Homo sapiens: one gene and its partner. The protein of the gene in region 2 purifies or fractionates together with the protein of the main gene of each other region. This does not show direct contact. Each region holds a gene or a part of one and is shown on either strand. Other genes may lie near its edges.

The links.
Region 1: the proteins of MYLK2 (region 2) and FBXO11 purify together in Homo sapiens (affinity purification with mass spectrometry; 4 studies listed by BioGRID and IntAct, with this or other methods). This does not show direct contact.

Annotation. Positions count from the first base shown.
Region 1 is NC_000002.12:47,903,386-47,910,985, forward strand, and holds the start of FBXO11 (F-box only protein 11), read right to left. Parts: upstream 3,114-7,600; 5' UTR 2,336-3,113; coding exon 2,104-2,335; intron 1,954-2,103; exon of another isoform or gene 1,708-1,953; intron 1-1,707. UniProt on the Homo sapiens protein: Substrate recognition component of a SCF (SKP1-CUL1-F-box protein) E3 ubiquitin-protein ligase complex which mediates the ubiquitination and subsequent proteasomal degradation of target proteins, such as DTL/CDT2, BCL6, SNAI1 and PRDM1/BLIMP1.
Region 2 is NC_000020.11:31,813,837-31,822,355, reverse strand, and holds the start of MYLK2 (myosin light chain kinase 2, skeletal/cardiac muscle), read right to left. Parts: upstream 3,001-8,519; 5' UTR 2,928-3,000; intron 2,824-2,927; 5' UTR 2,776-2,823; coding exon 2,724-2,775; intron 2,231-2,723; coding exon 1,810-2,230; intron 918-1,809; coding exon 619-917; intron 1-618. UniProt on the Homo sapiens protein: Implicated in the level of global muscle contraction and cardiac function. Phosphorylates a specific serine in the N-terminus of a myosin light chain.

The DNA of each region.
Region 1 (7,600 bases), on a different chromosome or scaffold from region 2:
GGTTGGGTACATACTGAAATTTGGATTCATGAATATTGACAGTTTATAGACATCAATGAGAAGAAAATTGACACTGGCATGTGACTGCCAACAACCAAGTCACCTTACCTCACATAGAAATGAAAATAGACCTCAGTAGCTAATAATTTTGAACAAATGAATAAAAGTGTCCAAGACAAAATTACATCAACTAAGTTCGAAATTACACACAAACCTTGAAATGAAAATTCAGAGTAAACATTTTAAAATACACAAGGAGACTAAATTGTTTGACACGTTTTGATCCAATGCTAATATTATTAACCAATTACCACATCTTGAAAAAGCTTACTGTAGCAATAGAATCCTTAATATTAAAGGCTAGAATTTCAATCGAGTGTCATTGTTTTCTCAAACATATTTGTCAGCTGTACTGCATACAGTGGCAATTCTGGAAGAAGAACATTATTTGAACGGAACATCAGAAGAACACTGATAGACATATGTGAAAGGAAATAATGAGACTACAGATTTTTAAAATTTACCCCCAAAATGGTAAATGTATCAAAGAAATAAAACACTTTTACCAATTATGTTGCACAAGATCTCCAACTGCCTTGAAACATCACATTCTTTCAAGCAACATATAGCAAACTGCTTTCTCTAAGACTACCTTTAACAGTGACTGGTGAAAGCCTTTTAAACTATTTTCCGATTAACATCTCCCTCCTTCATTTGTTAAATATTGTGATCAAGTATAACAATGAAACCGTTTTTAAGGAAATAATGTATAATTTTAAAAAACATTTAATCTCAATCCCTTTAACCAATGGAGGTGTGACAACAAACGCATGTAAAATTAACCTTAATCCGCCAACTAAAACACGCAAAATGTCTCCTAACAATTCTCCTCCTCCTTAAAACAACAACCGTACACATAAATACGGTTCTGACCTCTACCACTACTGCGAACAGCTAATTAATAAAGAGAATGGTTATGTTTGGAGACCAAGGTGCAACACCCCCCCTCATAAACCTCCCAAAATAACCACATCATCCAAGTAGAACTGAACATTATTTTTGCTAAAGCAGGATTTCAACCTCGGGGAGCCTCAGCCCTTAGACAATGGTGGTTACCAGACAGTGCTAAACAGTTGGGTCCAAATGACACATTTCACTAGGCCTTGGACACAACACACACACGCGCGCGCGCGCAAACACACACACACACACACACACACACACACACACACACACAAAATATCCCAAGGGGCCAGTTCTAAGCAAGGGGCGTTCAAACCCCACTAGGAGACGGAGAGTAGCACCGCGGCATGGGGGGTCGCTCGGGGAGGACAGGCGAGGGGGTGTCGATAGAGCGGAAGGGTAACTGCACTGCACACGAGGGAGGGGGCTGGAAATGGCCGATGGATTCTATATTTATTTATTTAAAGGTCTTGATTTAATGGGTCCTTCCCAGGGGTTCGTAACTAAAGACAAACTGCGCAGCAAACACTGTGGGGTTGGGAGAGGAGTCGCTGCTCCCCCTACCCCGTGACCAGGGACGGGGGGGCGGGGGAAACAAGTTCCCCTGCCAACACCACAGACCACCCCGATTCCCCTCTCCCGCTCCTCCTCAGGAAGGGGTAGGCTAACACAGAAAAGAGGGGGAAAACAAGTTCCCCAGCCAACCCCACCACCCGATCGCTCCCAGTCGCTCCCCCCACCTACCACTAGAAAGAGGCAGACTAAACCATGGAAGGCGGCAGAAAAGGGAGAAATCACGCCGCTCGCCTTCCCCCCGGCCACCAACAGACTCCCGCGGGGTCTGTGAGCGAGCGGAGAAGCCAAAGGGATGGGTGGGGGTGGAGGGTGCTGAGCCCCCGAAACCAAACAAAGCGCGGCCTGAGCGAGAGCCCAGGCGAGAAGGGAAGCCGCGGCTTTTCCTGCCGGCCGGGCCCGGCCCGGGCTGACACTGCGGCACCGGGGGACCCGCCTCCGCTCAGCTTGGGTCTCCCACCCCCAGGGCGCGCAGGCCGCCCCCGCCCGCCCGCCCGCCCGCCCGCCCCGGCCTCCCTTCCCGCGGTGCCCGGGAAGGCGGGCGGTTGGGAGGTAGCGCGGCCTTACCCCGCTCGCCGACGTTGTTCCGCTCCTGAGGCAGCGGCGGAGGCGGCGGTGGCGGCGGCGGAGGCTGCTGCTGCTGCTGCTGCTGCGGCGGCGGCGGAGGCTGCTGCTGGGGCGGCTGCTGCTGGGGCGGCTGCGGCGGCGGCTGCTGCGGGGGCTGCTGCTGCTGTTGCTGCACCGGGCGCGGCCGCGACACTCGCCTGGGTCTCCGGTTGGCGGCTCGGACGGAGTTCATTTGCCGGGCTGAGGTGGCGGCGTTGGCGGAGGGACACACACACGCACACGCACAGCGAGCTTCGGGGCAGGAGAAAGGGGTGGGGAGAGTGGGAGAGGGGGGAGGAAGGAGAGGGGGCGAGGGGAAGGGGAGACGCTGAGGGCGGAGGGGGCGAGCGGGACCCCGAGTCCGGAGAAAGGCCCGGGTAGACAGACGGAGACCGAGCGAGGCCGGCCGGGAGGGCCTGACGCACGGGGAAGGCCGAAGCCGCCGGGCGGGGCGGCCGCGAGGGACGAAGGCAGAAAGACGGGCAGACCGAGAGAAAGAAAGAAAGGGCGTCCGCCGCTTGGGGATCCCGAGGCGAAGCGCGGCGGCGGCGGCGGCGGCGGCTGAAGAGACAGATCCCGGTCCCGCCGACTCGCGAGCGGCGTCTCCGGCAGCGGGGGGAGTGGGCGGGCGGGTGAGGAAGGGAGAAAAAGAGAGGGAGAGAAGGGAGGGAGGGAGCAGGGGGCGCCCGGCTCTTTTTTTTCCCTCTTCCTCCCCCCCACACCCCCTGAAAGAGATTTCTGTGAGGAATTTTTCTCTCTTTCTTCGGTCTCTTCTCTCTCCTCCCCCCCTTCTCTCCTCGGCGAAGGGGAAATGAGTGTGAAGGGAGGAGATAGGGGGAAAAAGAGGCGTCGTCCTTCCTCCTCCTTAAAGGAACCTTTCCTCCTCCTCCTCGTCAGCCCTGTCGCCGCTGCTTCTGCTGCTGCTCCGTGGCAGGAGGAGCCATTGACACCGCCGGAGCCTCCACTCGCCCAGTCGGTCCCTCCCCGCCGCGGGGCTGGCCGGGGGCGCGGGGGAGGGCCGCGGGGCGGCGGGGGGAGGGGTGGGTGGGCGGGGAAAGGAGGGGCGGGGATTCCGTCCAGGCGGCCAATCTAAGGCGCCCGTACAACCTTCCGGCCAATGGGGCCTCCGCTCTTATCGCGAAGTCCCTTCAACGCCCTGTTTCCTCTCTCGGGTTTCCTCCCTCCCCCGCCTAGGAGGGGGAAAGAGGAAAGGGGGAGTGTGGCGGGGCGGGTGATAATGGGGAGGTATCAGGGCAAATAATAGAGCAGGGGGTGGGCGAAGAGAGCGCCAGTGCGTAGCGACGATTCTGGGAGAGGAGGTGCTCGGAGGAAAGGGCGGGGGTTGCTGATGTAATGGGGAGAAGTGATTAATCCTTCGGTTCGCCGTTTCAGCTTCCCCCCTACCCCAACCTTCACCCGATTTTTTTGAGCTGAAAAAAAAGTGGAACGAGGGAGCCAATCTTTGGTAACTCGGGTTTTCTGTGGTAGGTGGGTTCAAAATCTGAGCTGTAGGGAGCGCTAGAGATTTCGTGCCCTTTAGCCAAGCTGAGGGTATTTGCAAACCCTGAAGATTTCCGTCTCCGAGCTTTGGGCTTGGTAAGCGAAGTTTGGAGTCGGTGCCTAATCGTATATCATCTAAACCTTGAAAAGGCTTTGACCTTTGGCCAATTTGATTTGTTCTTTGAAGAAGTGTATACAATGTGTGGGAAAATAATATGTGAGAGGAGAGAAGTAAATGTGTTGATGTTGTGATTGTTTATGTGATTTAATTTTTAATTTTTTTTTTTTAGGTCCCACAAACTGCAAGGAAAAGAAAAACCCTCAACAGGAATTACCTTTATACCTGATGCCCCCAACATAATCTCTCTCCAAGGGAAACGTGTTTTTATTGCCTTGCGGCTGAAAATGTATTCTCGATTCTCCCCCTTCTCTCTTTTGTTGTGCATTTTTTGGATGTGGTAAAACTGGCAGTTTATCTGATTATCTGGTTTTCAGAACTTTGGGCGATGTCTCTGAGTGTCATCAGTTGCTCTCTAGGTTTGACATAGATAATTAAGCAACTACAAAGCGTGATAAAGCTTTTGAGAGGGAGGAAAATGTATTTTGGAAGGAGGGAGAGACGCAAAGAGGCGAGCCTGTGTGTTGAGTCCCAGACTTGGTGTGTGACTACAGGCAAAGTACTTCACCTTTCTAGATGTCAGCCCCGCCCCCCTCACCTCCCAAGTTTAAATAAGAACTTATTTTAGACTACATGATCCTGTTTTCAATTTTTAAGAGTTCTGTGATTTTGAGATGATCTCTCTTTAGTCCAGAAAAATAGAGAAACGTAGGTCTATGTTTGTTTCTCAAAAAAATATTTGAGGAGGACAGCTGTTACAAAACAGCTGGAGAACTCCAAATTTTTATGGTGGTTAGCTAGGTGCAAATGGGTACAATTTTAGGTTTGTTCAAATAAACATAGGGGAAAAGTAAAAGTACAGGAAAATTACGTTATACATATAAGTGTGTCCATCATTTCTGATTTTTCTAAAAATTTACTTTTTTATTTGACAAGTACTTTTTGGCTCCTTCCGTGTATGCATTAATATGTATATAAGGTGTTATGGGAAATACTAATAAAAGGAAAATATTGGGCATAAAGAGTTTGTATTTTGGTGTGGCAGAGTGGAAGTTTTACTTACATTAATTCAGATGTAAAGAAAATGTAGCTTGTTTATTTTCTGTAATTTTAACTTCAAGTCCCCACATCATCTCAATTTTTTAAAAAACATAACTGCTTTCACCTTTTATTTCCCCAACTCTCCTTCTAATATATTAATGGGAGGGGCGGGGTTTAGGGTTGTTATATGTGGTATAAGGGGTATCTTTTACATACCCTAGATTTCTAAGTTTATTGCAACAATTCTCTGACATATGGCAGTAAAATGCCTTGTTTTAGCAAAATTAGTATATTATGACAATTTCCTGATAGATGGTAGTAAAGTGTCTTGAGAAAGGAAGCACCTTTTTCAAATTCACAGAGTAACTGGTAGGGTGGTAGCATCCCTGAGGAATAGGGAGGTTTACAAGGGCATCTAAGCCACTAATGCCAGTCCTTATGTTGTCTTCTGGCGTGGAGTGGCTAGTATTGTCTGATGGCAGCCACTGTCGTTTATCATTTATTACTCATAAAACTGGTCATTTCTGTACTTTTGAGGCTGATTTCTTTTGCTGAAATCCATACATGAGCCATTTGCCCCATACACTATAACCTCTTTGTACTGACCCCGAGTCTCCACAGGTCCCTTGATCCTCATGGTTCTCACTGAGACACATGGGTACTTCTGGATTCCCCGAATACCACGTGTAGGCCTTGATGAGCCAGGAGCCTTGCTTTGGGCTTACTAGTTGTTGAGCCACTATCCAACAATGTTGCATTTTTCTCCTTATGTCATATTGAACATGCTGGCAGGCTGAAAGTAGAACTCCTAGACGTCTTAGTGTTTCACAGACATGTCCAGGGACGCAAACCACTATCTCCAACTTTCTTGGATTTCCCTATGTCTCTGTGCATATGTCAACTACATACCCTCAATTCTAGTTTCCACCCTGAGAGGGGATGGAAAGTAAGCACACTGAGTCTGATTAACCTCTTCCTTGTACCCTTTTCTTCTTTCCATCATGCCCCAGGGTTTTTAAGGAATGGATTTTTCTCCTTCCCATTTGTCAGGAACTTTCCTTCTGTACCGTATCCTCTTCATTTTTGAGATTTGGCATTTCTTCTGCTCCCTTTCTTGGAGCCGTGATAGCTGATGAAGTGCTCAAGAGAGAACCCAGTTTAACAATAATGGAACACCTATTGGGAGATATTAAAAAATATTATCCTATCCCTACATTACTGGTTTCTACATATGTTTAGTTTATTTCAGGGATTAAATGTTGAAGTCATCTTTGTGTAAAAGTGTTCAAACTCAATTGTGGAACTTAAGAGTTGTCAGGACGGACCTTGGAGATCATTAAATCTCATTTCTGTATTCAACAGACTAGGAAACTAAACTCCAAAGAAGGGAGGTGACAAAACTATAACTATTTGGTAGCAAAGCCACTGTCTGCCAATCCAGGGCCCTTTCCATTCAGAAGCATTGTAGACAGTATTTTGAGTTCTGGTGAGAACCCAAAATATCCTGGAAGGTTTTATCCATAGGCAGATCCACCTATATTAGTAAATAATTCTGTCAATTAGCTGTCATAAAAGTTATATATGTTAGAAAACAGGAGAAAAATTTAAAAGGATTTCTTTTAGGGGTGGGAGCCACCTAGAATTATTTCAGTAATACTTAGCATAATTTCAGAGGACTGAATTCCCTCAGGGTTTGCTCTCTCTTCAAGAACATTTGTGTTTGTTTTTCTCAGCTAATTACTGGTGCTTAAAAGGTTAGTGTACTTAAAATTATTTGTTTATAAAACCTATCACAATAGCAGTGTGGAAAAAATAAGCTCTTTAATCATTTTAATACCTGGCAGGTGATATTTACTGTGATTCTTAAATTATAATTTTACCATTTCAAAGATTCAGCTTCCCTTTCCTCTGTCATTCTATCATCTAGTCCCAAGCCGTCAGCACTTAGTTACATAAGACACCTCAAAGCTGCTCACTCCTTTTATGTCATTTAAGAAATTAGTTTGATCTGAATATGGTTTCCCTGCAGGAATAACCAGCTCTGTTTAAAATATTCTTGTTAAAGTATGAATGACTTATCTCACTAAGCTGCAAAAATTCATTCTTCAGTACATGCCCAGATAATTTTTTATCAGTTAGGTAGTGAAAATTAACTCGGAACTAAGGATTTAAATTTAACGTATATGTGGGAAAACCTGGTAAGCACACAATCCAATGATACCCAGAAGTTATCTTTAAAGAATTATAGAATCTGACTTTAATACCTTTCCCTGTGAAGTAATACAGAACGCTATTAAAAGAAATCAATTTTGTTCAAGTTTTAGGCTGGACTGTGATACACAGTGGTAAATCTTTGTTTTTTAAGAGCAGAACCAATTTCTTTTTATTATTATTATTATACTTTAAGTTCTAGGGTACATGTGCACAATGTGCAGGTTTGTTACATATGTATACATGTGCCGTGTTGGTGTGCTGCACCCATTAACTCGTCATTTACATTAGGTATATCTCCTAATGTTGTCCCTCCCCCCTTCCCCCGATCCCACGACAGGCCCCAGTGTGTGTGATGTTCCCCTTCCTGTGTCCAAGCATTCTCATTGTTCAATTGCCACCTATGAGTGAGAACATGCAGTGTTTGGTTTTCTTTCCTTGCAATAGTTTGCTGAGAATGATGGTTTCCAGCTTCATCCATGTCCCTACAAAGGACATGAACTCATCCTTTTTTATGGCTGCATAGTATTCCATGGTGTATATGTGCCACATTTTCTTAATCCAGTCTATCATTGGTGGGCATTTGGG
Region 2 (8,519 bases):
AGCTACTAAGCCTGGCATTTGAGCCCTTCTACAGATTGACTCCAAATTCCATTGCCCAGGGAGTTTGTGTTGCTCCAATAATCTGCCTGATTTTTCTTTTTTTTAACTTCATTTTAGTCAAAGTAGAAAAAACTCAAAAGTGGGTTCTGGAGTCTGGGTGGCCTGACAGGTTCAAATCCTGTCTTCACTGGATATGTTTGGGCACTTCATTTTCCTTTTTCTGAGCCTTCCTTTCCCCATCTATCAAAAGGGAATACTAAATTTAAAAATAAAAATACATCTTAAAAAATAAGATTGAAGAAAGCCAGGTATGGTTGTACACGCCTGTAGTCCCAGCTACTCGGGAGGCCAAGGTGGGAGGATCACTTGAGGCTGGGAGTTTGAAGCCAGCCTGGGCAACGTAGCAAGACCCTATCTTTTAAAACAAATAAACAAATGAATAAACATACGTTAAAAAAGGAATACTTTCTGGAGTTGTGTGACCCTTAGATGAATGGGCCTGGGTAAGGCTTGGCTCAGGGCAGTTCAGACCTCCGAATAGGTAGACTTGGGACTGACAGCCCCCTTCCCTCCCCCTGGCCCCAGGGCAGCCCCAGCCCCCACCTGCCCCTGGCCTACCCAAAATCTGGAAGCAGTCCTCCTCCCTGGCTGTGAGACAGAGGGCCTGCCCCACCTCGGATTTCTCTGAGGGAACAGCCTGGAACTCAATCCCCCTCGAGGTGTCCCCTTGCATCTTAGCCTGGCCAGCCTGGCCTGGGGTTTTCTCTCCCACTTCCTTCTGGCTCTCTGCCAGGATGTTCTTTCCTTCTTCTGCCTTGGCTGGCCTGGGATCCGTGGGGCTGTGGGTCATGGGCACCCCTTCAAAGGTGAGCTCTGATGCCTCGCTTGGGGGCTTCTTGGCCAGCAGCTTCTCAGAACTAGAAGGTGAGAACACAGAGGTGAAGCCCTCAGCGGCCACAGCCTGTGGCATCAGGCAAGTCTCAATGCAATCTGCAGAGCTAATCCAACCCCACCCCAAATGCATGGTGTAATACAGCCAAATTCACCTGGTACAAAATTAAGGGATGTTCATGGCTGTGGTCATTATCTTGACTACCAACACACTAATACATCATTAATAACTATTAATAGGATTGTTGATATGGTTAATCATCATGTGGATACAACTAGGGAGTTATGTAGCTCTTGATTCATAAAATCTGTTGTGATATAATTGATACATAATTATCAAAGTGATATGGTAAATGTTCTTATTGTGGCTTACAATATATCATTAATGACCTCATTAGCATTCAGGTAAGTATAACTGATGGCATCACACATGTGCTATATTATGGTTATGAAAATATTATCAATGATCCTCCAATCTGGTTATTAGTCATCTTTTCATATCTTACCAATAATTATATTAAGAAGAACAGGAAAATACTGGATGTCCTAGGAAATACACAGCCTTTTGCCTGACACCTTTAGCCTTTCTGCCTGCCATCTCAACCCTGCCCTTGGCTAGACCCAAGCCCATGGAGTAAGGGGAACTTCGGACCCCAGAAGCCTAGAGAAGATATGTTCAACCTAGGCAGTCTTTGAGGGTCTCTCTTACTCCAGTCTTGTATGAATTGTGGCAGGGTTCTGGTTTCTGCAGGGGACAAGGCGGTAGAGGCAATTCACAGGACAGAGGAAACTGAATGTCAGAACTACACTCCCCAGCACTGAATGTGATGATAACCATGCCTAAGACAAGGGAATTAAGCAGGACCCCTAGGGACAGAACCACAGGACCCCTCCCCACTCCCAGGAGGGGATATTCACCTGGAGATGATGGCAGGACAGCTGGGGCTATGCAGAAAGGCAGGTGAGCCCCTCCTGGCTGCTGCTTGGCCCTCTGCTGCCTTCTTGCCCACCCTGGGCTTTCCAGGATCCTGGCTGCCTGAGGCTCCCTGCTCAGCCTTGGGCTTCTTGACGCTGGTCTCAGGTGTCGCAGTCTGCTGGGGCAGGGCTGCCGGGGGCCCAGCACTGCCCTCCGCGGGCCCCCCGCCCCTGTCACCCTCTCCTTTGGGGCCTTGGCTGCTAGTTGAGGGTTGGGCCAGGGTACCATCCCCTTTCTCTGAGGCAGGGGCTTTGGCATCTTTCTTCAGGGTGGGTGGATCCGGAGCTTTCTTTGGGTCTGGGGGGCCAGGGTCTTTCCCTGCAGCCAGGGGTCTTTCACCTGTGGGACCTTTAGGTGCCTTGTCTGCAGAGGAGGTGAGACACCCATCAGGATCCACCCTCCTTTCCTTCCCTCTCACCCAGGCTGGGCAGAGACCAGCTCTGGGCCCAGGTTCCCACCCAGGCAACAACTTGCAAATGCTTGTCCCACTGAGTCTCTGGGGCCACTTGATGGCCCCTAGAGATGAGCTGCCACGACCTTGGAGGGCCTCTGTGGGAGGCTTCCAGCCCTTTGGGTGGGCCTTGGTGGCCCCCATCATCCTTGCCCTGACTGTTTAGGTGCATCCCCAGCAGCCATCCCTGGTGGCTTCACATTTTCCTGGTCTCTCCAGGAAGGGCTTCATACAGGCCCTGGACCCAGCCCAACCCTAGCCAGAGATTCCTCTGATTTCTGGGTCCCCCGTGCACCATGCAAACAAGGCTGGGGCACAGAACTCCCACTGAGGAACCTGCCCAGTCCTGGATTCAAAACCCCCCTTCCCAAGCTCCTCCCTCCATCTCCTGCCCCAGCTTGGCACCTGTTGATGGGTTCTGAATTCCCAGCTCAACTGCTCCATTTTCTGTCGCCATGAGGTAGGGAGGCGTGTGCTGCTGCTTGTCTAACTCAAGTCTTTCTAGCTGCAGAAACAAGAGTGGAGTGTGTCAGGCTGTCCAATTTCCCCTCTCGTCTGGCTGCAGTGAGACAGGAAGCCGAGGCCTGCTAACTGAGGGGAGAGAGGTACCTGGAGCAAAGAGGGGCAACCTGGTTGCCGTCTGTCTCCCAGCGGCTGCTCAGGAGCAGTCCTGGGCAGTTGTAAGGGATTGGGCCGGGTGGGCAGAGGCGGAGGCAGGGGTGTGGGCAGTGGAGGCGGGGACGGAGGAGAGGATCTCTTACACCAGGGGCCATGCAGCTGGGACTGCCGCCACCTGTCACTCTTGGCCCCAGTTCAGAGGACACGGCATTCTTCCCATGGCCCGACTGGGGGGAGAATGATGTTGGAACAAGCGAGAAAAGGGAGGGGTATCTGGGACGCTGGGGGAGCAGCCCTTTCCCCAGGCCTTGCTCAGTATCCCTGACTTGGACAGGATCAGAGGGGGCCTGGAAGAAGGGGAGTACTCAGGCAGGCCTGAAGGGCAAGAGTATGCCCAGGCTGAGCCCTGGTCTGCCCACCTGTGTGCCACATCTCCTGGGGCTCCCCAGAACCTGGCTAGAGCCACAAAGTCCCAGGGATAATCTCCCTGACCCTAGTGCCTAGCTCTGTGCCTCGACATCTGGACCTGCTTGCGTCACCTTTGGGTAAGAAATTGTCTCGGGGGCACTTTCTCAACATGTCCATAGGCCTGGAAGCTTTTTCTTTTGAAACTGTCCTTTTCTTGGGCTCCTGGGGACACGGAGGCTGCCCTGAGTAGCCATGGGAGATGGAGAGTGCTCTGTGCCCCTCCCCCAAGCTCATCCAGTTCTCACCCATGACCCACATGGAAGAAGGGGGCTGGCAGAGAGTCTTTTCAAGGATGCTCCACTACAGGGGTGGCCCGAGGGGCACTCTAGCCTGAGGTGTTCGAGATAGGATGAGGACAGCTATGATCCAAGGAGCCTTCCATCACCCAGAGCCTTTCTCAGAGGGGGCTCTTGAGAACTGGCCAGACCTGGGTGCATTAGAAGTAGCTGTAGAGGCCAGAAGCAGTGGTTCACACCTGTAATCCCAACACTTTGGGAAGCTGAGGCAGGAGGATCACTCGAGGCCAGGAGTTGGAGACTGGCCTGGGCAACATAACAAGACCCCGTCTTTATATTTTAAAAAGTAAGATAAAATGAAGTAGCTGTAGAGTGGTTATCCAGGTTCAGGTCCTGACTGCAGCAAACCAGTCACTTCACTCCATGGCCTCGGCTCCTCTGTCAAATGGGAAGCCATTGGAAAAACGCTTGATGAGAGAAAGGAGGGAGAATGCAGCCCCTCTAAGCAGTGGGGAAATAGGAACCTGTAAAAAAAGATTGAGGAAGCTGTTAATGAACTGACAAAAAGTGACCACCAAAGTGGGGGGAATAAAAAAAGCAAGATGCAAAGTAGCATGTAGAGTGTGCTATCCATTTGTGCAAAAAAAAAAGGGAGAATAATATATGAATAATATATATTTCACTTTATGCACATAAGAATTTATTTGGTAGGATAAGCAAGGAACTGGGCCCCAAGGGTGGGAAGGAGACATCACTGTATATACTTTGACTTTTCTGTTTGAACCATGAACTATGTGAACAGGCTACTATTCAAAATGAGTGGGATGTTTTGTTTTGTGAGCAAATGTCAAGGGTTTTTGGTATAAGCTGGTAAAAACCATAGTTGGAGCTCTTTCCCCAGTCTTGACTACTTTTGCTCTGCCTGGCCCTCCTCTCCAGGCCCGGTCCTCCTCTCCTCCATTTCTCTTCTTTAAGGTCCAGTTAACAGTCTGCCTCTTCCAGGAAGCAAAAGTAACAGCTGATGCCTATACGGTACTGACCACGTGCCTGGCCTCGCTCTGCATGCTCTCATGTTGATCCACCCAAATGGTCTTCAGAAGAACCCAGTGCGGTAGGTACTAGAGAGATGGGGAAACCAAGGCATGGAGAGGTTATGTAATTTACTCAAAGTCACAGCTTGGAAGGGGCTGAACTGAGCTCTGAACCCAGGTCCCCTGCAGAAAGGGAGCTTCCACTTGCTGAGCACCTGTCATTCGTTTTAGCCATCTTGCCTTTAAGCATCATCTTGATGATAACTCTGTGGGGAGCGCTCATCTCATTTTCTGCATGAGGACGAGGAGAGTTAAAGGAATCAGTAGCTTGCCCAAAGTCACTCAGCAAGGAAGGGAGTTGAGCTTGGAATGTCGTTCTTCAAACTCCAAAGCCCTCTTCCCTTCCTAAAATGTCCCAGCCTGTGCCTTGCCCCCTTCTCCCTGCTGAGTAACCCCTTTGTGGATCTTGCAGCATTCAAAAGGTTGAAATGTTTCCTGTCCTAATGCGGATCATTAGGACCTCCTGGCCCTCTATCTGGCCCAGAGCATGTTTTAGTTTAATTTGGAATGTTGGGTCCCCTGCTTCTGGCCTCCCCACAGTGCCCCAGCTGATCCCACCATTGGTTGACACTGTCTGGGAGCCCCCTGAAGGCCAGGGGCTAAACACATCCCCAGCACAGAGTGGACTTGCCCATCAGTGTCTGATGAGTAAATAACTGATTAACCAGAAGGCTCCAGACTGGAGTTTGTTACCTCCCTATGCTGGACCTTGCTGGCATCTCCTTGTTATTATTGTGGTTATCAATACCAGTCATTTATTGAGTGCCCACCAACGGCCAGGCCAGACTATGCCAAAGATCCAGCTCCCTGGATCCTCAGAAGGGACTGTAGGGGCCAATGTTACACCATTTTAAAGGTGTGGAAACTGATGCTCACAGAGGGAAGTGGCTTGTCCCCACAGTCACTCAGCTAGTGAATGGCTTCAAACTACCCACATTCAAATCCAGAGCCACCTCCCAATGAGACCAAAATCCAGCCTGGGACAACTTCAGGGGCATTAGTGCTACTTTTGTTATAATTATTATTCCCAAATAATTACTCTTATTGAACTCTTTCTAAAATGGACCAGGCCCTGGGGTAAGCAGCTTCATGAGTATCCTTCCTTCGAGTCTTACAACTCCCTACCATGCAGTGATTAGGAGATCTGTCAATGAAGCGCTGCGACCAGTAACTGTGAGCTTGGAACAATGTCTTCACCTGTTTCCTCATCCGTAAGGAGAGCATCTGCCTCCCAGGAGGTAGATAAAGCATTACAACAGTGAGTGTGAGCATAGCGAGTGCTGTATAAATGTCAGCTCTTTAATCCCCATTTCACAGATGTGACAGGAAAACTGAGTCACAGGGCAAAGTCATAGAGTTGGGATTGGACCCATCTAACCCAAGGCTCTGCTCATAACTGCTCTGCCCCATTGCCTCCCTCTCACAGCATGGCTGCGAGCATTTAGCCAGCACACATGTAAAGAGTGCCCAATGGCACAGTACCTACAGCACTGTGGGGGCCTGATAATGTCGTGGACACCCCAGGTAGAGGGTTCATCTGTTCCCGCCAGCTCCCCTGCAGTGCCTCCCACTGGGATGAGAGTCTGGCCTGGTTCCGAATCTACGGGACTGCCTGCTCCAGCCAGCTGCTCCCTGGGAGTCCCCAAGCTTCTCAGCACTCCCTTGGAGGCACAGGGGTGGGGCACGGGGAAACTTCCTCCACCCACCTAGGGGCTGCCAGAGCCCCTGCCCACCCTCAAGAAGGGGCTTCCCCGCCCTGCACCAGCTGTGCAGACACCCTCTTTGCCTCTACAGGGGCAGGACAGGAAGTGGGGCAATGCCAAGACCAATTAAACCCGCCAGGGGAATTAAGGTCAGCAGGATGCAATTATGCCTGTTGGATTTAACAAGGCCAGAGGGAAGGTTTCTCCAGCCAGAGTTCACGGCTCCTTAGGCCTCTTGCCCTGTGTAGCTCTGCCTTCCAGGAGCCTAGGCTTCCAGGCTCACCTAGCTCTGGAAGAATGTGTTGGGGGTGAAGGGGTTAACTTCACCCAGGCACTGCTTCCTTGGCTCTGGAGAGGAAATCAGTTCAGCCAAGAGGCTTTAAAAGGACCTGTTCGGAGAAGTCATGCCCAGTCTGACCCTCTCCCTGCCCAGCTGTGATGGAAAATCCAAAGAGTTGAGCAACAACCTTTCTGACTCCAAAGAGAGCAGCCAACTCCCCTCACAGCCTTCCCTCTGCTCCTGTTTGAGAGCCACTCAAGGCTGCATTAGCACGTTGTTTTCTCTCGCCCTCTCCCACCTTGGACCCCTGAGCCCAGGGCCTTGGCAGGACCTCTCAGGCCTCTGGAAAAGCCCTAGGTAAGGTTGCTGTCCTTACAGCAGACCCTGTCCTTCCAGCCAAGCTAGTAAGCAGAGGTCTGTGGGCGTTCTGTGTGCAAATTGGACATAGGTTTCTCCGAAAACGCAATTGACACACTGTTCCATCCCACAGTTATAGAATTTTATTGCTAAGATTAATTACTGGGGGCTCTACTGTGACAAGGACTAAACTGGTCACTTTCAGGACACAGAGATGAAATTGGGGGAGAGCTATAGAATCACTGCATATTACATTTTAGGTGAAAAAAGACTATAAAAATCAACCATGCCTGTAATCCTAGCATGTTAAGAGGCCGAGGCTGGAGGATCACTTGAGCCCAGGAGTTCACGACCAGCCTGCGCAACATGGTGAGACCCCATCTCTGCAAAAAAATTTAAAAATTCGCCAGGCGTGGCAGTGCACACCTGTGGTCCCAAGCTACTCAGGAGGCTGAGGTAGAAGGATTGCTTGACACCAGGAGGTTGAGGCTGCAGTGAGCCATGATTGTGTCACTGCACTATGGCCTGGGTGACAGGGTGGGCCCCTGTCTCAATAAATAAATTAAATAAAAATCAGCCATAGAGCGGGATCCTTTTTGTTCAAAATATTTACAAAGAAGATGGCTGGAGGGATATAAATGGACATATTTACAGGCGTAGAAATAGAGATTATTTTTATTCTTTATTCATCTAGATTTTCCAACTTTTTTGGAAATGACTTGTAACTCTTAATCAGATCAATAAGTAATTCCAAATATATCAACGTGGACACAGATTTCTTCAGAGAGAAAATGGTAAGAGCTATAAAACACCATGAAAGGACTTCTTGGCTCAGGGCCTCAGAGAACTCGCAATTCAGCTACTGCAAGGCTTTCTCAGTAACTAAGCCCCAGAGTTGGTTTAAAATGAAGCCTCCTGGCTGGGCGAAGTGGCTCATGCCTGTAATCTCAGCACTTTCGGAGGACAAGGCAGGCGGATCACTTGAGATCAGGAGTTCAAGCCCAGCCTGGCCAACATGATGAAACACCATCTCTACTAAAAATATAAAAATTAGCCGGGCATGGTGGTGAGCACCTGTAATCCCAGCTACTCGGGAGGCTGAGGCATGAAAATCACTTGAACCCAGGAAGCAGAGGTTGCAGTGAGCCAAGCTTATGCCACTGCACTCCAGCCTGGGCAATAGAGCAAGACTAAGTCTCAAAAATAAAAATAAAATAAAAAATAAAATGGAGCTTCCTTGGAATGAGGCCCCAGAAATGTCTATAAACCAGCATTTCAGGTGATTTTTCATGCACATCCAAGTTCAAGAACCACCAAGTCAGAGAGCCAGCTCTCTAGAAAGCATCCTGAGAGCCTTGGAAGAGGGAACAGATTTGAGGCACTGTCCTGACAGTCACCCTGGTGCAGTCAGTGGAGAGCTTCCAGGATTCATATCCCTATAACCCAGG